Linked DNA regions of Homo sapiens. The protein of the gene in region 3 interacts with the protein of the main gene of each other region in a biochemical or structural test. Each region holds a gene or a part of one and is shown on either strand. Other genes may lie near its edges. The genes, in order: PRKN, BAG3, USP26 and CDKN2A.

Region 1 (8,260 bases), on a different chromosome or scaffold from region 3:
CCCTCTCTGACTGACTTTACCTGTATAACTTGCATTCTATTAAGCATAAGATGATTAAATTGGCTGCAAAAGCCAGAAGGGACTTTTAATGAATTTACACACTAAGAATTGTGACAACTATGTCTTGATCCAATATGAAAGTTTCTTAGATGTTGAATCTCCATTAAAAATTATTCCAGAGGCCAGGCGCGGTGGCTCATGCCTGTAATCTCAGCACTTTGGGAGGCCGAGACAGGTGGATCACGAGGTCAGGAGATCGAGACCATCCTGACTAACACGGTGATACCCCGTCTATACTAAAAATACAAAAAAAATTAGCTGGGCATGGTGGCAGGCGCCTGTAGTCCCAGCTACTCGGGAGGCTGAGGCAGGAGAATGGCGTGAACCTGGGAGGCGGAGCTTACAGTGAGCCGCGATCACGCCACTGCACTCCAGCCTGGGCAACACAGCAAGACTCCGTCTCAAAAAAAAAAAAATTTATTCCAGAACTGTCCCCCACAAAACAAAATAGAGTTCTAAAATGGGCAACAATGCCCAGAAATTGCCAGAACATAAAAAACAAGCACAGAGACTTGGTATAAAACTCAAGACACTGAGAATAAGATTATTTGGTGACTTCTTTGAAATCAAGATGATATAAAAGTCAATACCTATGTCAGAAGCTCTGCATGTAGTGAGACACGGCAGATGCCACACACACATACACACACACACACACGAGAAAGGGACAATGAATAATGGAGAAAACTCTAGAGAGGGACAAAAGGAAGAAATTCCAATTCCAATCATAGGTTGAGCATCTCACAGATTCCTAAATGAACAAGAGTGGAAAGCCCACAACAGATCTCTACGAAATATCACTCTCTGTATCATATGATTATGTCTAAATTGACTGCCCAATAAAACACATATACTTCCCATCTGATCCTATGAATTCAGACATATTCATGTAAAAACGTCTTTATATATTGTCACATGTAATTATACAAATTTGGTGAATATCAACTGGATCATGCAGTCTACATTTGTCTGTGGTCAGGAGCCCAGAGAAGCAGCACCTCAGAGAACATGACCTCACTTGTGCTTAAATCTGTACCTCTCACACTCTGGGAACTCACCAGAGAGCTATAAAGGACTTTCAGGAGAAAGGAGGTCGAATTTCAAGGGTGGAGAGAAGACCCAGGGCACAGGGAATATTATTCTTAAATCTGTCTAATTCTCCAAGGAGCAAACCTAACTTGCCCCCATCCTCTAGCTGCCCAGAGTTCATCATTCCTCAATTTTGTTTCAATGGAAAAAAAAAATTGTAATCAGGACTGGATTTGCCTGGAAGGAAAATGCAGAGCCAGAGACTACAAAGATTTCCATTGCAGACAATTCCCAATCTAGGGAATGTCTCCAGTAGGAGCTGTGGTGAAGCCTGGTCTGTTCCGGTCAGGCCACTCCTGTGATAACCCTCAGAAACATTACAACCCACAGTCAAGCCCTGTGGCAACAAGTAAGGAAGAAATTCACCTGTTGTTCAGACAACAGCTGCTCCTTTGAGCTGAAGAATGAAATATTAAATTCCAGCTTCTGAGAAAATCAAGGAATGTGGGTAAGAAAAAAATGAGGGGACAGAAAAGAGGGAGTGCAGGTAGATGTCAAAAAAAAAAAAAAAAAAAAAAAAACTAAAGGTTGACCTCAGAAACACAGATATTACAAATGTTCCTTCCTATTTCTCCATTTTATTAATACGAGCAAGTTTCAGGTGTCTACTTCCTATCATTTCATGATCTGGAAAATGGATCTACTCTGCGGGTACAATAAGCTTTAAAAATGACTACGCAGTTACAGAGGGCTTCATCACAAGATCTTATTTATGCACTGAAACTCCAAAAATATCTCACAATAGGAGTAACTGGCGTATTCAACAATTATGTAAATAAATAATAAAAAGTCTCAATCAGGACACCAATATTAACTCCCTAATCACCAATTTTCCCCCTCATTTGATGAGGGTAGGAGTAGAGATGTGCAAAATGGGTGAGGCTGCTAACTATTGAACATTCTCTCCTCCAAAGTTAAGGGCTCTCATGTGAAACTTTATGGGGGCCTCTGTTCAGGTCTTACAGTAAAAGTAAATTGGAGAGAATCATCAAGAAGCCATCAATACTCTTAAAAATACACACATCTGTCCATAGATGGTCTTTTTTTTTTTTTTTTTTTTTTTGAGACGGAGTCTCGCTCTGTCGCCCAGGCCGGACTGCGGACTGCAGTGGCGCAATCTCGGCTCACTGCAAGCTCCGCTTCCCGGGTTCACGCCATTCTCCTGCCTCAGCCTCCCGAGTAGCTGGGACTACAGGCGCCCGCCACCGCGCCCGGCTAATTTTTTGTATTTTTAGTAGAGACGGGGTTTCACCTTGTTAGCCAGGATGGTCTCGATCTCCTGACCTCATGATCCACCCGCCTCGGCCTCCCAAGGTGCTGGGATTACAGGCGTGAGCCACCGCGCCCGGCCCATAGATGGTCTTAATATGTGCCTAGGTATATGAGTCATGCAGATATCTAAGAGGAAGAAACTATTCTGCACTATTCTGGGTGACACGATATCCACAGCTCTGATGACATTGTTCTCTCCACACAGAGAAGAAACTATAAATAGAACCCTAAGCATCATGTTCCACATATCAAAGAAGGAGATACAAACTATTTTTGGAATACAAATAAAGCTTTAGTAACATGAAATAAAACACCTGTCAATAAGAGACATTAATCTATTCTACAAAAATAAGAACTTTTTAAAAAGAAATATGGCCTTTAATCAGAGATGATGTAATGACATATCAAATCAATGTCAACACCCTGAGAAAAGCCATCTCCTACTGCACAATTACCCTGCCATTCTCAGTCGAAGACTGTCCTCTATTAAACATTATCTGGACTTCTTTCCTTTGTTTTATGGAGTGAGTTTATAAACGCTTGTTCTCCGTAACTAGTGATTTCAAGTATTCTGTTTTATCTAAGAAGTACAATGAAGGTCATGAGAAGTCCTCTATTAACACTTTATCTGGACTTGCTGGCACTAGTGTAACTATTTTCTACAACGTTCTATTTCATAACTTTCTAGTACTGCCACAGACATCTTTCTAAAATACAACCTGTTCATAATGCTCTTTTGTAGATAATGGTTCAGTGACTCCTCCCTATCGCCAACTTTAAACCTACCTCCTTGACAAAGCTTATCTGGTGTGCCTGCAGCCTCACCAGATACCTTTCATTCTATTCTCTTCTCTCCCCTCCATGCCTGTCTAGAAGGCCGCCTTCACCTAGTTAACTCCTACTTGTCCTGCAGGAAAACTGGAATGGCTCCACTGGGAAACAGCTGGATCTTCCAAGCTCTATAGGCTGAGTTTTCCAGTACTTCCTTGTATAAACCTATATTATGATACCCACCTTTCAGGTTTGTAAATCTTTACTTTTCTGTACCCCTTCTAGACTATGAACAAGGACCTGATGAAGGGTAGTTACTAAAATGTTGGCTGACTCTAAAGGAGGTGCTAATTGCCTCACACTAAAAAGAGGGTAAGAGGTGACATGGAAAATTTCACATAAAGTTGGTGCCATTGGAACTGGATCTTGAGTGATGAACAGTAGTTTTGAGATGTTCAACAGAAAGAAAGGGCATTCAGATCAACGAGAATCAAATGAACAAAAGAAACATGAAAAATCACGTGTTGCAGGCATGTATGTGTGTGCTGATATGTACATACATCTTTCTAATTACTCTTCTTCTGTGGTGGTGAAGGTGCAATCTATACCACCAATATAAGCCTAATCAGCCCAACTAGGCCACAAACTTATTGGGAAGAAATGGTCATTTCTATGTACCTTCCCCACAGGCAATATATAGACAAATACAACCTATGTGTACCCATCCCTACCCAGCACCATCTAATACATATGGTATAAAGAAATGACACTGAAATAATAATCATAAATACCTATTCATTCAAGGAAAAAAGGTTTCTATTTGGTGAAAAACAGACATTTGAGTTAATCTGTTAAGAGTCCTAGGTAATTAGGAAATTACTGGGGGAAAAGAATCCTATTACTGTAATTCCTTTTAACCAAGATTCTATGCTACAGGATGAAGTAAATAAGCCAGGGAGGTGAGCTGCAACATAAATCAGCCGACTGTCACATGAGTCTCTTTAATATTACAAAATTGAGGGAGAGAAACCATTCAGATTACTACGAAGAAACATTTAAAATGAGCTCATTAAATGCAAATTAAAACAGAAACATTGAATAAGCACTGGGCTACAATTAAAGGCTGCAGAAACAGCAGGTAAGAAACAATTTTCATTGATCAAAGAACTAATAGCTAACAGAATAAAGTATTTTGCATTAAAACTGCTTTCATGAATATGAAGCATTTCGAAGTAAGAACTCTTTTTTTTGCATTTTTCAAAGAAACTTTGGAGGTAGGAATGGATTTACATATCTTAATACAAAGTACTTTCATTGTATCATTTTCAGGCAATGAAACTATGAGGTTTCAAAAAATGCAGACTTCAAAAACATCCTCAGAAATAGGGCCAAAATTGTAAAGGGCAAAGGGTCATTTTAGAGCCTTTGGACCCAAGGAAGAACTATTATATAATTACATAAAATCTTCTATGCAAAACTTTAGTAGAGCCTATTTTTGACACAATTTTACCTCATTATAAACAGAAGCTTTGGGGTACTTAGGCATAGAGCTGGTTTTCATCAACTTATCAAAATGGCAGGGCAAAGAGCAGTACACAGTATATTCAACTAGAAATATAAATTGAGACTTTAAAATTCACTGCACACAAGCTTGAAAACAAATATGCAGATGTGTAGCCAAATGGTGAAGTCGGAATATACATTCCTGATGGCAAGGGACTTTTTCTGTTGTGTTCCCTCGTTTCCCTGGCACCTAGAGCAGTTAAGGGTACATAGCAGGTGCTGGAATCACTGGATCTGCTTTTGCAAAACTAACGCACTATAAGATGAGAATGAGAAGTTTTCTTCTAAATTAATTTGAAAAGTTAAAAGATACTGTTTTTCATCTGTCAAGACGGCAAAAATAAAAAATCTTCGATGGCACATGGGAGGAAATGGGCACTCTTATACACACTGAAAGGGAGGGCAGGGCCACCAAGGACAGTTGTGCAGCTTGTACACTGAAAGGCACTACCCCTAGGGTGAGAGAGAGGTGGGGGACCGGAGATCCAGGAGGCGTTCTGCTAGTGAAAGCTGAGTCAGTCTCAGGAAGGACGTCTTTTGGCAATTTTCAGCCCAGAGGGGCAGGGCAGCTCTTTACTACCATGTTGTATTAGTGGAGGCTTTAGATAGGCTTGTAAAATTGGGCAACTTATTTTGGAAAAATTTTGAAATACCTAGGAAAATGTAAAATCTACAAACTCTTTAACTCAAATTGTCATACGATTTTTATTTTACATCTATGCTTACATGTGCAAGTAAAAAGATATGGCCACAAACACTTCTGACAACAGTTGTCTGTAAACCTAATGAGTGCTTATTTATTGGTAAATATTTTCATAATTAGTGTATCCTATAAAAGACTAGGCAGGAATCGCTGTGGAGTGGATCTGGACATGCAGATATGTAAATTCTCAAAGAGATGCTAAGTGAAACAAGGTATAGAAGAGACTATGTTCCAATGAATGGTTTTTGTCAATCAAAAATCTTCTTAAAAGTCTAAGACACTGAATGTGTATTTCAATACTGACAACATTGTTGTATATATAACCATGCACTCTAATATCTGCTGTTACTCAAATACCTAAATCCAGTTCTACAGAACATTTAGAACATACCACAAATATCCCCACTAACATTCCATTTTAAACACAAAGAATTGCTCATTTTTAAAAAAGTCAAAATATATTTTTAATAGAGGTACCAAAAATTACATTTTTCTAAATTGAATTCTTTTAAGCTTTTCTATTCTGCTTTATATCATCTTGAAGTCCTTCTCCACACTTTCCACAAAGGCACAATTTTTAACCGACTTCAATTAAATTATGTTTCTGTAGCTGCCTGGGTCAGGGCATTCAACACATCAATCACAATGCAGGTGGGAAATGTAAGTACTTTTGAAACAGTCCTCATGCCAATAAGGGAATCTTCGGTTTTGAGAAAGTAAAAGGAAGGTACATGTCATTAGCAGTGAGGTCACAGTCAGTCCTGTTTACTCCTATTCTACCAGGAAACCCATCTTTACGTTTCTCCTTAAACTAAGCCAGGATTTAAATAAAGTGGCAGAATATTATTCGCAGTAAGGTTGAGGCGGGAAATTAAAGAACAATAAAATTAAAAAGAAAGAGAAATAAGTTTTCCTGTTTTAGGCTAACTTGTTCCAGAAGCAGCAACAGGCACAGCCTAGACCCAGGAAAAGTCTTGATAATATTATCTAATATGCTCTGGAGACTCTCTCAGCACTCCCTCAACACAGGGAGAAGAAAAACAAATTTTCCTTTGTTTTACAGAATGAGTTTATAGACTCTTGTTCTCTGTAACTAGTGATTTCAAGTATTCTGTTTTATCTAAGTAGTACAACGAAGGTCATAAAAAGCCTGAGTAGGCCTGAACTACAGCTGCCTGGGCACCACAGAGAAGGTTATAGGATAAGCCTGTGCCCAGGCAAACCTAGAAAACGAACATCTGGGTTGCTTGGCAATGGTCATCTGCAATCCTGTCTTTGTCCTGCCTCTGTATCCCTGCTTTCACGCCACTGTAAGCTTGCTTCAAGCTAGCCCACCTCCGTTTGTGAAGTGTGTATAAAAGTCAAGTACTGTCTTTATTCTGGGCCCAGTCTTTTGGATGTGAGTCAGCTGGGCCTGAGTACACTCAATAAAGATTCTCCTGCTTCAACCTGAGGTCTCCCTCATACTCCCGAATCCCGCAACAAGGTGAGTGTAATAGTTAGAGAAAGCATAGGCCTGAAAGGAGCAAGCTTTGAGAAGCACTCTTACCTTTAACAGAAAATCCCAGATACATACTATTTACATTTTAGTGATCACTGGATAAAGTCTATAATGTCTTTCCTGGCTCTGAATTTTTGTCACAAAAACACAAAACCCATCACTCCAAGGCTTCCTTTTAATGGTTTTCACTTTCACCTACCTTTAGCACTGTTCACGACACCCAAATCCCAAACTGACCATTCAGATGTTTACTGAAATGTGGCTAATGAGGCTGGGCGTGGTGGTTCATGCCTGTAATCCCAGCACTTTCAGAGGCGAATGCGGGAGGATTGCTTGAGCCCAGGAGTTTGAGACCAGCCTGGGCAACATTATGAAACTCCATCTCTACAAAAACTATAACAAAAAATTGGCAGGCATGGTGGCACACACCTGTAGTCACAGCTACTCAGGAGGCTGAGATGGGAGGATCACTTGAGCCCAGGAGTTGGAGGCTGCAGTGAGCTGTGATGGTGCCACTGCACTCCGGCCTGGGTGACAGAGACAGAACCTGTCTCAAAAAGAGGAAAAAAAAAAAAAAAAGACGTGTGTCTAATTTCAGAATTAGGCAATGCAACTAGTTGAATATTTTATTGCACATTGTCCATGATCTTATATGTAAGGCACATTTCCTAGGGAAAGCAGGCATGGATTTAATCATTTATGTTGTACTGCACACTTATTTGCACTATGTAAAACCATGGCTGGAGTGAGAGAAATAACACTTTTAAAAACCAACCTTATATTCTCCATGTCATTACCAGTAATTGATAACTGTTTAATCATCAACTCCAAAGATATTTCTTCCTTATTGGAAGAATTCCAGATAAAACTAAACAGAACTGTCCAAACACATTTCATCCTAATAAAGTTATTTATATAATCACTTATTAGGTCATAACTTATAACTGAGTAATGTTCTTTAGATCTTAAGTGCTTGTCTTTATATAGCTTTACAATAAATTTGTTTCTCTTAAAATTATCTGTGCACTAGATTAAGTTAAATTAAAATAAAATGTATTTAACTGTCTTCAAAATAAGGTATAGGCTATTTTCTTCCTGTAGACTGACAGCACAGATATTGGAAAATCTCTTCTACTTGGTTTTCTGATTCAGTTCAAACTTGTGCTTGCAAGTGAATCTTACGTAAATGTCACCTAAAAAGAGCTCAAGAAGACTCATAAAAAATATTTTTTTCGTAATTTGATTAACTTTCAAGTCATTCACCAAAAGTCAGACCATGCTAGAAAGGGAAGAAAAGTTGG
Region 2 (5,850 bases), on a different chromosome or scaffold from region 3:
AAACAGGTTTAGAATCCACCTCTTTGCGGATCACTTGAATTGGGATGTGTCCAGGAGGGAGTTCTGGTCCAACTGGGCCTGGCTTACTTTCTGGTTTGTTTTCAGGCTGGGAAACAGGTGCAGTTTCTCGATGGGTCATGGGCTGCTGAAAAAAGGACACAAAAATATATTTTTAATAACTGACTGAAAGTCACAGAAATTGTTTGTAGCTAGTACAGATTAGAAAGAAAACTGAGAAATGGCTTTTTAAAAAAAGTTTAATAGTATAAAAGATTTTCAAAGTCAATCAATGGCTGTTACAAAATAAAAACATGGTATTAATCATGTATGTAACCCAATCATTAGTCAGGCTTCCATTGATCACCCCAGGCTATTTGTCTATTACCTCTCACTGAATTTCTCTGTAGATGGTATTCTTAATGGCAATGAAAAGAAACCCAATAAAATTTTCAAAAATGAAAATAGCTAACCTGGGCAATATAGTAAGACCCCAACCCTACAAAAAATCTTTAAAAATTAGCCAGGTGTGGGAGCTTGCACTCGTAGTCCCAGCTACTCAGAAGGCTGAGGCGGAAGAATCGCTTGAGCCCAGGAATTCAAGGCTGTAGTGAGCCACGATTATGTCATTGCACTCCAGCCTGAGTGACAGAGCGAGATCCTGTCTCAAAGAAGGAAGGGAGGGAGGGAGGAAGGAAGGAAGGAAGGGGGGAAGGAAGGAAGGAAGGAAGGGGAGAAGGGGGCAAGGGGGAAGGGGGCAGGAAGGAAGGAGGGAAGGGGGAAGGGGGAAGGAAGCAGGGAAGGGGGGAAGGGGAAGGGGGGAAGGGAGGGGGAGGGAAGGAGGGAAGGAAGGAAGGAAAGAAGGAAAAAAATAGCAAAAACTCATGCTGACTGCTGAACTAGGCTGACTCAGAGCAGAGTCCTGAGTGACTCCAGCTCTCAGGTGTTGCAGCCTTGGAGTCGCTGCCTCTGGTCCTTCTTCCTTACACTGTGCAGACAGTCTGCTCACGGTGTGATCTTCTTGTCTCCTGTTTTAGAAAAGATACGATCTTCTTTTTTTAAAACCGTGACAGCCTAGTAGTTTCTGCCCAGACCAATGTATTTTTTTAGGATTAGCCAAGATGCTCTAAATGGTTAACTCCAGAACAATTTTGCTTCAGGATAGCTGTGCTGTAGCCTAACATTCAGCAATGACACAGCGCCTCTGTGCTAACCTCTGGCTGCACAGGTTTTCCTGTGACTATAAACTACAGCCATATAGATATATAGATTTTTGTGGGGGACAGGGTCTCACTCTGTTGCCCAGGCTGGAGTGCAGCGGGGCTATCACAGCTCAATGCAGCCTCAACCTTCTGGCCTCAAGTGATCCTCTCACCTTAGCTTCATGATTAGTTGCAACTACAGGCACATACCATCATGCCTGGCTAATTTTTCTATTTTTTTGTAGAGACAGGGTTTCACCATGCTGCCCAGGCTGGTCTTGAATTTCTAAGCTCAAGCAATCTGCCCACCTCGGCCTCCCAAAGTGCTAGGATTATAGGTGTGAGCCACCACGCCTAGTAAGCCATATATTTTTTAATGAGCTATGCTCAAAGCAAAAATATCTTGACGCTTTTTGTTTTTGTTTTTGTTTTTGAGACGGAGCCTCGCTCTGTCACCCAGGCTGGAGTGTGCAGTGGTGTGATCTCAGTTCACTGCAACCTCTGCCTCCCAAGTTCAAGCAATCCTCCCACCCCAGCCTCCCGAGTAGCTGGGATTACAGGCGCCCACCAACATGCCTGGTTAACTTTTTTTTTTGTATTTTTAGTAGAGATGGGGTTTCACCATGTTGGCCAGGCTAGTCTTGAACTCCTGACCTTAAGTGATACCCCCGCCTCGGCCTCCCAAAGTGCTAGGATTACAGGATTACAGGCGTGAGCCACTGCGCTTGGCCTTATCTTGGCTCTTATTCATGTAAGTGAATATCTAACACTTCTTTTAAAATCTCACCCTAATTTCATCAACTGGGAAATAACTGGACTATATTATTTCTAAACTATTCCCAGCTTAAAACACTCAATTCCACTATAACGTTCAGTTTGGTGAAATCCTGGAAAGCCTCCCAAAAGGGAACTTTGAATCAGCTCTAAAAGGGAGGTCACCACAAACACGGTTAATGGTAAGAACAGGATGAAATATCATTTCACTGATGATGAGAAACACATGGGAATGATGTGGAGAAAATATCCCTCTCTCTACAAATGGGACCCTCCTAGGATTGCTGAACCCAAGTATGGATCGATGTAGCTGTCTACACTCCAGCAACCTCCTTTTCCATCAAATCTCTTTCGCCAATGCAGACATTCGCAACTTTGGCCCTTACCACTCACAACCCAACCACGCACCCCTCCTAGGTTCTAACAGCAATGGCTGTGTAAGAAGTGACTTTAGAAACACTTTAGAGAGGGTGTTCCACAGCCTGTGTTCTTCAAAACCGTCAAGGCCGTGAAAGCAAAGAAAGGCTGAGGGAAGACTGAAGAGAAGTTGCATCTAAATGCGGTGCTCATGATCCTTGTTTCAGTCCTGGAAGACATCCTGGAAGTGGGGGCAAACTGCTATAAAAAAGATTCAAAAATGTACTGGATAATAATGTTGTAAGAATGTGAAATTTCCTGAATCTGGTAAGTCTACCATGGTTATGAACGAGAATGTCTTCCTCTTAGGAAAATATTTGCTATTCAGGGGAAAAGGGACATGATGTCTGCAATTAATTTTCAAACAGTTAAAACACATCAATAATATACGAGAGAAGAAATGACAAGGCGAATGCAGACATATTGACAAACAGTGAACTGGATGAAGTATATGTGGGGCTCTGTATGATTCACACAACTCTTCTATGAGATTGAAATTATTTCCAAATAAAACAACATTTTAAGATGAGGGTGCTCTATTCCAGGGCCCTGGCCAGTGTGACCATTTGTAATGAAAGAATATCCCACATTTGTTCACGGGGGGCTTTCCTTTTTAAAAACTGTAGCATTCAGCTGCTCAAGTTGCAGCCACAGGGGGCCCAGGGCTGCTGACTGTCCTGCTGCTAAGCTGTGAGCTGCTTAAACTAAATGACATCCTCTTCCAGGAACCTGCACCTTGTGTCTCCACTGGAAGATAACCAGACCCCTGCCTACAACCTTCCCCAGGCCAGCACGGCTTCCAATCCGCCATAGCTGGCTGATGCCTCAGCCAGACCACATGGTACCTGATTACAAAGGGAGGAGGGGGGTTAAGACATGGGCCCTGTGGTCAGGCTCAGCCCTAAGCTGAAGAGATAAAATGAACACTTCTGAAATGCCCCGAATAATGACATGTTGAACTCATACAAGTTGGGAGTTCTCATTAAGGGACTCATATGAGGCATCATGAGATGAGAAGGATGAGTAGGCTTCATGGAGGAGACAAGACTGGCTCGTCCCTCAGAGGACAGGGAGAACCTATACTGTGCGGGCATTTCAGGGAGCGGGTTCAGCATGGGCAAAGGCACAGGGGTGGGAATGAGCAGAATGGGCCTGCAGAGTGGAGTGGGTAACTGAGTGGAAGGTGACACACTGCCTACACCCAAGGTGAGGCTGTGGCTGCGGTGTGGATGGGGGTGTGAAGAGCCCTGAAAGGGTGTGGTGGACACTAAGGAAGCTGGTCCCAGGTATGTAAGTTCTGCCAAGCTGTTTCGTCTGCTCTAAGTCAGCCGCAATGCACAATGATCAGCCCAGCAAAAGCTGCAGAGTGCGGAGGGTTCACAGCCTGAGCAACTGTCCTGCATTTCTGTTAATACCTAGCAATTTCTCGAATCTCACTTGCCTGTAGGTACACGCATGTTAAATAGGCAGGGATGAAGGGGGAACCCAGGGCACCCACAGAGCTCCTGCACCCCTGGAGACATACCACCATAACCAGTCTGCTGACGACTAACTTCCCGTACCTGAGGCCTGTCGACCACGGTGTGCACACGGATGGGCGAGGGGGAGTGGAGTGGCGTGCTGCTCCTGGCTGGTGAGCCCTCCCGGCTCGATGCACCCTGGACAGATGACCTGAACGGGGATGCCGCCCGCAGGGGCCGGGGCTCCCAGTCATCCCCCTGGATCTTGTGGTACACAGGCTGGTGGGTCTGGTACTCCCCCTGCTGCGCTGGGTAGTGCGTCTTCTGGGCTTGGTGGAAGGAGGGCTGGGCTGCTGGCCGGGTAACGTTCTGCTCGTGTATCACCGGAATGGAGATGTACCCCCGCGGGAGCTGGTGACTGCCCAGGCTGCTCCTGCCGGAGGAAGGCAGGCTGGCCGAGGAGGATGAGGATGAGCAGTCAGAGGCAGCTGGAGACTGGGACCGCTGCAAGAGACACAGGGTAGAGGGCATGACCCCACAAATGACTCCCCTGGCTTGGCATCCTGACCACGCCTTCTGCTGTGCACCTCCTCAGGGCAATCCATATTGTAAGACCTCCTATCTGTAATTTTCAATTTTCAAAATGTGCGGTTAAGACTGAGAGCTCTGGGGCTGGGCGCGGTGGCTCACACCTGTAATCCCAGCACTTTGGGAGGCCTAGGTGAGTGGACCACCTGAGGTCAGGAGTTCAAGAGCAGCCTGGCCAACATGGTGAAACCCCATCTCTACCAAAAATACAAAAATTAGCTGGGTGTGGCGGCGCATGCCTGTAGTGCCAGCTACTCAGGAGGCTGAGGCAGGGGAATTGCTTGAACCTAGGAGGCAGAGGTTGCAGTGATTTGAGATCACACCACTGCACTCCAGTCTGGGCAACAGAGAGAGACTCCACCTCAAACAAAGCAAAACAAAACAAAACAAAACAAAACACACACACACACAACAAAGACTGAAGGCTTTGGAATCAAGGGGCCTATGTTCAAATTCCTAGTAATTCAATCATTTTCTAAGCTTCATTTGAAATATAGGAAGAGTGCCCCTCCCTCACTGGGCTGCTCTGAAGATGAGGTCAGTCACCTGGGCATGTGCCTCAGCCCCAGGCCAGCACACAGGAAGCGCTCATACAAGGGATGTGTTGTCCCCACTACCCTTTCTCTGCCAATCTACAGAGAACTCGGCTGAGCAACTGGGAGCTGCCAGCATCCCGTGTGGCCCAAGGCAGGTCAAGCACCTTTCCCTGCTGGGCCACCTTCTATTCACCTCGAAATTGAGAGCATTTCCTCTTCTAAGTGCTTTGTTAGCCTAAATTTGTGAAGATGTCTCGCATTTATGTGTCACTTTGATTTCTTGCAGCAAAACCATTATAAATATAGGCATTACTTATTTTTTTATTTTTGAGACAGTCTCGCTCTATCACCTAGGCTGGAGTGCAGTGGTGCGATCTCGGCTCACTGCAACCTCTGCCTCCTGGGTTTAAGCAATTCTCCTGCCTCAGCCTCCTGAGTAGCTGGGATTACAGGAATGTGCCACCATGCCCGGCTAATTTTTGTATTTTTTGTAGAGACGGGGTTTCACCGTGTTAGCCAGGCTGGTCTTGAATTCCTGGCCTCAAGTGATCCACCTGCCTCAGCCAGGTACTACCTCTCTAAGAAAAGAAAAAAGGTATCCCACATTAACTGTAACTTTCACTCTCAAGCAGGTGTGAAGCTGAACAGATTCAGACGGAGCTGAGAGGCAAGCATGACTCAGGGTGCAGATAGGACACGGGAGTTTGTGCCCAGGAACAACGCTGGCACACACCACAGGATGATGTGCAGACAGGAAAATGAGAGGACTTACTGCTTAGGAATCCTACTAGGAATGCCTCAAATCTCAGCTAAGAACCAGATTAAGAACTATTTTTTAGCTATTAATGCACAGAATCCATTGACATATCCCTGAGA
Region 3 (4,006 bases):
GCGAGCAGAAGATCCAGAAGGATCTAGAAGGATCTACTTCCATTTTCTCTCCTAACCTGGCCCTAGACAACTTCTGTCCTCCTTATTCTTAAATAGAAACCTTTTTTTTTTTTTTCTGGGAAGGAACACCTTGGAAAGAGGACCTATGCCAAAATGTATAAATACCATTATATTAAACACACAACTATACTGTACAATAAAATTCAGATGAGGCAACATGACTTCCAACGGCTGTTCACTGCCAGAAAGTAAACATTTGACGTTACAGTTAATTTCCTCATTTACACACTGAAATACCTCCGTCTTTTAAAGGAAACGTATGCAAAAAACTCGAGCAGAATTGAATACATTGAACCTCAACACACAATTGTTTCAGGATATGATATCCCAAAAAACTTTCTGCAGTGGCTGGTGATTGGCACTTGTGACAATTTAGTGTCCTAAAACAAGCTCTCAGGCAAATTAGCAATGTGTGCATTTTTACATTAAAAATACCACAAACGGGCTGGGCACAGTGGCTCACGCCTGTAATCCCAGCACTTTGGAAAGCCGAGGAGGGTGGATCACCTGAGGTAAGGAGTTCAAGACCAGTCTGGCCAACTTGGTGAAACCCCGTCTCTACTAAAAATAGAAAAATTAGCTGGGCATAGGGGCGGGCACCTGTAATCCCAGCTACTTGGGAGGCTGAGGCAACAGAATCACTTGAACCTGGGAGGCAGACGTTGCAGTGAGCTGGGATCGTGCCACTGCGCTCCAGCCTGGGCGACAGAACAAGACTCTTGTCAAAAAAAAAAAAAAAAAAGAAAGAAAGAAAGAAAAGAAAAGAAAAGAAAGAAAATGCCACAAAACATTCTTTCAATTAGAAAATTCTTTTCGTTATTTGTAAATTGAAGATAATACAAAACTTTCTTCACACAAAATTTATGAAAAGGACTAGGACCCACATTTAATGGAATAAAATGCTACCTAACACAGAATTCCTCTGTAAAATAAAATTCCAAATTCCATTAAATGGCAGCCGATGATAAGACACTTAAGTGCAGTCACTGGTGCAAAACATTAAGGACACAGCCAGATGATTAAATTGTGCATTTGTAAATCAAGATTACTCCAAAACTTTTATTTTATAAGGAAATTAATGAAGAGGAAACAAGACCAGAATTTGGACAAATAAAATTATACCAAATAGGCTGTTCTGTTATAAAATGCACTCAATCGACAGTTAATTTCCTCTACTGCAAACTGAAACTTGTACAAAACCTTTCATAAGAAACCTATGAAGTTTCCAATGCCAACAATATTTTTTTAAGAGACAGGGTCTCGCTCTGTCGCCTAGGCTGCAGTACAGTGGCACAGACGCAGCTCACTTCAGCCTCGTCCTCCTGGGCTAAAGAGGTCCTCATACGTGGCCAAGACTACTCGGGGAGACTACATCTGGCTATTTATTTATTTTGAGATGTAGTCTCACTGTGTCGCCCAGGCTAGAGTGCAGTGGCACAATTTCGGCTCACTGCAACCTTCGCCTCCTGGTTTCAAGTGATTCTCTTGCCTCAGCCTCCCCAGTAGATGGGATTACAGGCACATATCACCACGCCTGGCTGATTTTCATATTTTTAGTAGAGACGGGGTTTCACCGTGTTGACCAGGCTAGTCTCGAACTCCTGACCTCAGGAGATCCACTCACTTCAGCCTCCCAAAGTGCTGGGATTACAGGCATGAGCCACGGCGCCCGGCCTAATTTTTTTTTTTTTTTTTTTTTTTTTTTTTTTGTAGAAATGAGGTCTCCCTCTGCTGTTCAGGCTGGTCTCTAACTCCTGGACTCAAGCCTCCTTCCCACCTCCCAAAGCACTGGGATTACAAACACTAGCCACCACAGCTAGAGAGGCAGAGCATCCATATTGTTTGTAAAACATCAACTGCAATTAAGACCAAACTTTTAAAGGCAAATGAATGAAAAATATGAGAAGCACTCTTCGTGGAATACAATTAAATTCACAACTATACTGTATAAAAATGCAAAATAGCGAATGACCAACAGGAGGCTATCTGAAGTTGTCAATGAACAATTCCTGCACTGACCAGACAACATTTTCAAGTTTTAAACACCAGAAAACTTTTCTTTTATTTGAAAGTGAGTGGATGAAAGAACCGACTCCAAAAGATAACCACAAATATTACATTTTTAAAAGAAAGAAATACAAACAACATCGCAGCAGCTAATGGCCATTAACTGTCCTAATACCGTGCACAATCCCTCCCAATGGGAAGCTGATTCTTTCCAGGTCCAAAGTAACAGAAAGAGAGGCCAGGCGTGGTGACTCACGCCTGTAATCCCAGCAGTGTGGGACACTGAGGCGGGTGGACCACCTGAGGTCAGGTGTTGGAGCTCAGCCTGAGAAATATGGTGAATCTCTGTCTCTACTAAAAATACAAAAACTAGCCAGGCGTCGTGGCAGGCGCCTGTAATCCCAGTTACTCAGGAGGATGAGGCAGGAGAATCGCTTAAACCCAGGAGGCGGAGGTTGCAATGGGCCGAGATCATGCCACTGCACTACAGCCTGGATGACAGAATGAGACTCCGTCTCAAAAAAAACAAAAACAGAAAAACGAAAAGAAAAGAAAAAGTATACTACTACATTTCATATAGCCACATATAGAAAGCACACTACAAATATCTAACTCTCAATAACTATTACAAATGAAAAGCAAATTGATCTTACAATAGTTTGTGGAAGAAGTCGACACCCCTGACACACCAACGCTCCACCACGTGCCCACTTAACGATCGAAAACAAAATGGGCCCCGCCACAGGGGCAGGCTTCTTTTATTGCCAGTGTATGGCTCCACCCTCAAAGATCCTGATTGGTTGTGACTGAAACAATTGACCAGGATACTGTCTACTCCCACCTTCTCTATAACAGGAAAGTCCGTCCACACCCCGGGCCTTTGCTCCTTATTGGTGGGAAGGATTATTGCTTGGAGGTGTTGCGCGTGCAGTGGCAGGAACTGTGGGGAATGGAAGGAAAAAACTATCACAAAGTAACTCCCACGAGACTTTCTGCGTGGTTCCCGCAATGAATTCAAATAACGCGCCAACCGCTTTTACATTTTTTGCATATTATTGCCTTGTACGGGAAAGATCTTCCCAGCCATTTCTACCATTGGGATGAGACTCAATTCGTAGCAGGGAATTGAAACCCACCCCTCAGCATTTACGTTTGGGAAAAAGGAACGGGCGTGATGCCAGGACGGGGATCTACAGTGAAAAATGAGCCTAAATAGCTGTACACCTAACAATTGTGCATAGGAAGTAAGGGCATTAAATTGGGGATGGTGCCGCCATTGCAGGTGAGTTAAACAGAATGGGCATTAAACTAAGTGAGCATAAGCAGTTAGGAGAGAGTTTATACGACTGGGAGAATGGATGTGGGGTGATAAGAGGACTGAGGAAGGGGATCACGAGTAGAACTAGGAAATGGCCATACTAGCGTTTGAATCCATGACCCTCTAGCACCAATGTCTGTGTCGTAGACCACTATTTAAGAGTAATCAGCCTCCTACTAGAATTTCCTTTCCCCCCATCTCTGTCCACCAATTAGGTCCCAGCTCAAACACAGCCGCCTCCATGATGCATTCACTGATCCTTTCCCTCTCTTACCAGGCCCTCTCTTGCTGCTATCAGGTGGGGAATATGGGAAAACATTAGAATTGGGGTGCAAGGGAGTGCTGTCAGCACTGGCATCAGTTAGCACCGGGCTGGATGTGGCGAGAAGGACCCAGATTTGTACTGGGATGTTTGCATTTGTTAGGTTGCAGAAATTCTGCAAAATCCAGTGCAAAAAAATAACCTAGCCCATACCTGTCTCCTGACTGGTCAGAGAATTATAAATTTAGACTACAGTTGAAAGTAAACTTGGTAGGGCTGGGCGTGGTGACTCACGCCTGTAATCCCAGCACCTTGGTAGGCCGAGCAGGTGGATCACCTGAGGCCAGGAGTCTGAGGCC
Region 4 (3,973 bases), on a different chromosome or scaffold from region 3:
CATTTCTGAAACAAAATGGATGCTCATTTATTCATGTGCTCTGGCTTCTGCCTTCCTCTCTAATCTCGTTGCGTATGGGCTCCAGCTCGCCGTTCGGTTCTCCCGAGGCAGCATTTACACTTGAGAGTCTCAAGATTATTTTATTCCTGAGGGAGCATTTGCACTTGAAAGTCTCTTTTTACGTTTATTCCTGAGGCAGCATTTGCACTTGAGTTTCTTTCTCCCGTAGCTTGCATTAGATTCTCCGACCACTCTTTAGCTTCTCCTCCTATTCACACTTCATATTTACCCATTGCATTGGTTTTATAAACTCGCTCTCTGAAAATAGATTGTTATCTTCCTTAACGTCTGTTTCCCAGGTCGGGCAAGATAGCTTGGGACTGTAATCCCAGTACTTTAGGAGGAGGAGGGGGGATGATCGCTTGAGCCCAGATAACATGGTGAGACCTTCGTCTCTATTAAACAAACAAACAAACCCAGGCGTCGTGGCGTGCACCTGTGGTCCCAGCTAGTCGGGAGGCTCAGGTGGGAGAACCCCTTGAGCCAGGGAGTTTGAGGCTGCAGTGAGCTGTGATCGCGCCACTGCACTCCAGGTTGGGCAACAGATCGACTCTGTCTCCAAATGTAAACCCCATGAGGGCAAGACTCTTGTTTGGTCTCATTCACCTTGGCGTGCCCACCACCTAGAACAGGGCTGATCACGCAGTAGAATCTAACCATATAATTAATTGTGCTTGAAGAGGGGGTGTTGGGGAGTAAGAGAAGGAAGGGAGGAGGGAAGAAATGAAAGACTTGTGTGTTTGGATTAAATATATTAGGTTTGGTTAAGAGTCGTTCAGTTTATTCATTTGCTTGTGGCCCAATTCAGTAGTTTTACTCCCTCTCCCACTTGGCTCCTCAGGCTTTTTGCTCAGCCCTGGAACCGCGCTGTAATTGGCAGCTCCTTCTAAATCGGGACCCGGATGCTAGCTGTAACTGGAGCCGAAGTCTCCTTCTTCACCTCCCGGGACCTGGATGCTAGCTGTAACTGGAGGGAATTGGCGGGGGGGAGGGGAGGAGGGGCCGAGTAAAGAAGAACTTCGCGTCTTTAACTTCGAAGGTGATTTTGCGTTCTGTATTTACAGCATCTCCAAGCAGAGGGCTTAGAGCTAACTCTTCACCCTGTCCTCCCCAGCTCCCCTATGGCCCAAGGAGCCCAATGCCCCCGTTCTGGGCCAAAATAAGATGGATTTCATAATCTTCAAGGTCATGTTTTACCTTAAATATTCGTGTTAATTCCCGTGTACTGTTTCATATATCTATTTTGTTTCAAAAAAAAATGTTCCTCCCCCCAGAAACAATTGAGTAATGTTGGCAGTTTCAGCAGACAGCTGTGGGAGTAGGGAACTGGGGCCATGGAATGGGGGCGGAGGGAGGATGCTTTGAGATCACAAAAAGGAAAGGCAAGGGCAAGGAGGACCATAATTCTACCTTCATCGCTCAGCGATCTCTTGCACAAGTTTAAGAGGGAAAGGAGCCAACTCCGGTGCACAGACTGCCAGGGTCAGCGAAGTCTTGGTCCTGATGTCCCCAGAACCCCCTGGGGCAGCTCTGGAAAACTCTACCGCATAAAGCGGAGGGTCAGATTAGCTGAGGAGGGTCAGATTAGTTGAGTTGTGCAGAAGAGCCGAGATCGAGAGATCTCCAGATGATGCCACGCACAATTGGGTTTGGAAATCCTGAGGTTGGTCCAGCCAGCTTGGTATGCAAATGAGGAAACAGACCTGGTAAGTGGATGCAACTGGCCCTAGTTTGGAGGAAGAGGGGGCACTAGACCTCTAGCCTCTTGAGTCTTCATTGCTCCGCAGTCTAGGCCTTGAACTAGCAGAGGGTAGGTGTTTGGGTGGTGGTATGCTTTGGGAAGTATAATGTACAAAATGGGCTTTCACGTGCGCAAGTCCATTTCGGGATTATTTCCCATTTGCCGCCCTGGCGGGGCAGGGCGATAGGGAGACTCAGGCCGTCCCACCGATTGGCGCGTGAGCTGAGGCAAGACCGGAGACTGGTCTCCCGGGCTGAACTTTCTGTGCTGGAAAATGAATGCTCTGAGCTTTGGAAGCTCTCAGGGTACAAATTCTCAGATCATCAGTCCTCACCTGAGGGACCTTCCGCGGCATCTATGCGGGCATGGTTACTGCCTCTGGTGCCCCCCGCAGCCGCGCGCAGGTACCGTGCGACATCGCGATGGCCCAGCTCCTCAGCCAGGTCCACGGGCAGACGGCCCCAGGCATCGCGCACGTCCAGCCGCGCCCCGGCCCGGTGCAGCACCACCAGCGTGTCCAGGAAGCCCTCCCGGGCAGCGTCGTGCACGGGTCGGGTGAGAGTGGCGGGGTCGGCGCAGTTGGGCTCCGCGCCGTGGAGCAGCAGCAGCTCCGCCACTCGGGCGCTGCCCATCATCATGACCTGCCAGAGAGAACAGAATGGTCAGAGCCAGGGTGGGGGCCGGCATGACGGAAAGGAAGCTTGTGTAGAGCCCCCTCACCGCCAAGCAGACCCCCACACAAGCCCCAGGTGTCTAATTACCCCTACATTTGCTTCCAGTTTCCAATTTCCTTCTTGAGTTCTCTATCCATTCTTCAGTACACAATGAATTCCATTATATCCTCCGAACTTCTGCGGAGCTGTCGTCACAGGCAGAGAGCACTGTGAGGCACGGGCAAAATAGCAAAGGGGCAGGGACAGACTGACTTTTACTCCAGGCTAACTTCCTGTATTTCCCCTGAGATACAACTACTGAAATTTCTTCCTGAAATTATGTTAGGCCTGGAGATTTTTTTTTTTTTTTTTGTTCACTGCTGTATATCCAAGCGCAGAATGTGGTAATTGTTAAAAAGAGAAAACTTGTTTGTTTGTTAAAACAAATTCTCACAAAACTTTTAAGTTACACTTAGCTTCTGGGAATGTTGAACTTCAATTTCTTTTTCATTATATTAGTTTTAAAATTATATATTGGGATAGTACAGTTGTATATATTTATGTGGTACAATATGAAGTTATGATCTTTGAACACAATGGGGAATTATTAAGTCAAGCTAAGTAACCTATCCATCATCTCAAATATTTGACATTTTTGTCAAATGAGAGCATTTGGGATTTACTATTTAGCTATATTCATCATGCTATGAAACACATCTCAAAAAAAACAATCAAACTTATTCCTCCCATCTTAACTGAGGCTTTATATCTTGATTACCATCTCCCCATTCCTCCCACCCCCCAGCTCTAGTAACCACCATTCTACTCTTTACTGCTAAGAATGTAATTGTTTTATATTTCACAGATAAGTGAGAACATGTGATATTTGTCTTTCTGTGTTTGGCTTATTTCATTTAGCATAATGCTCTCCAATTCCAAAACTTCAATTTCTTCAAGTATAAAATAAGAAGGCTAGTTTAATTAACCCTAAAATTCCTTCCTGTGGTAGGCTGAATAATGCCCCCCCACCCCCAATGTCTATGTCCTAATCCTCAAAAACTTTTAATACATTAACTTATGTGGCAAAAGAGGCTTTGCAGATGTGATTTAATTAATGGTCTTGAGGGAGATTATCCAGAATTTTCAGGGTGGGCCCAACATAACCCCAAGTGTTTTTATTAGAGGGTCACAGTCAGAGAGAAGATACAAGAATGGAAGCACAGGCCACAGAGAAAATACAGAGACCATGAGCCAAGGAATTTGATGGTCACTAGAAGCTGGAAAAGACAAGGAAACAGATTGCCCCTTAGAGTTTCCAAAAGGAATGAAACCTTGTGGACCCATTTTTGACTTCTGATCTCTAGAACTGTAAAATAATAATTTTGTGTTTGTTTTAGCTAACACATTTGTGATAATTTGTAACAGCAGCAGTAGGAAACTAAAACACTTCCCAGGTTTATGATTTGAGAGTTCATTAAACAAGAGATGGTCACCTCTTTGGTTCCTAAATCATCTTGGA

Evidence for each region.
Region 1: the proteins of USP26 (region 3) and PRKN form a complex in vitro, tested with the Homo sapiens proteins (one study listed by BioGRID).
Region 2: the proteins of USP26 (region 3) and BAG3 form a complex in vitro, tested with the Homo sapiens proteins (one study listed by BioGRID).
Region 4: the proteins of USP26 (region 3) and CDKN2A form a complex in vitro, tested with the Homo sapiens proteins (one study listed by BioGRID).

What each region holds. Positions count from the first base shown.
Region 1 is NC_000006.12:162,718,250-162,726,509, forward strand, and holds part of PRKN (E3 ubiquitin-protein ligase parkin), read right to left. Parts: intron 1-8,260. UniProt on the Homo sapiens protein: Functions within a multiprotein E3 ubiquitin ligase complex, catalyzing the covalent attachment of ubiquitin moieties onto substrate proteins. Substrates include SYT11 and VDAC1.
Region 2 is NC_000010.11:119,670,759-119,676,608, reverse strand, and holds part of BAG3 (BAG family molecular chaperone regulator 3), read right to left. Parts: intron 4,355-5,850; coding exon 3,953-4,354; intron 146-3,952; coding exon 1-145. UniProt on the Homo sapiens protein: Co-chaperone and adapter protein that connects different classes of molecular chaperones including heat shock proteins 70 (HSP70s), e.g. HSPA1A/HSP70 or HSPA8/HSC70, and small heat shock proteins (sHSPs), e.g. HSPB8.
Region 3 is NC_000023.11:133,094,310-133,098,315, forward strand, and holds the start of USP26 (ubiquitin carboxyl-terminal hydrolase 26), read right to left. Parts: upstream 2,801-4,006; 5' UTR 2,721-2,800; intron 1-2,720. UniProt on the Homo sapiens protein: Deubiquitinase regulating several biological processes through the deubiquitination of components of these processes.
Region 4 is NC_000009.12:21,968,767-21,972,739, forward strand, and holds part of CDKN2A (cyclin-dependent kinase inhibitor 2A), read right to left. Parts: intron 2,899-3,973; exon of another isoform or gene 2,563-2,898; intron 2,443-2,562; coding exon 2,136-2,442; intron 1,738-2,135; coding exon of another isoform or gene 1,640-1,737; exon of another isoform or gene 1,039-1,639; intron 1,028-1,038; coding exon of another isoform or gene 966-1,027; exon of another isoform or gene 815-965; intron 6-814; coding exon of another isoform or gene 1-5. UniProt on the Homo sapiens protein: Acts as a negative regulator of the proliferation of normal cells by interacting strongly with CDK4 and CDK6. This inhibits their ability to interact with cyclins D and to phosphorylate the retinoblastoma protein.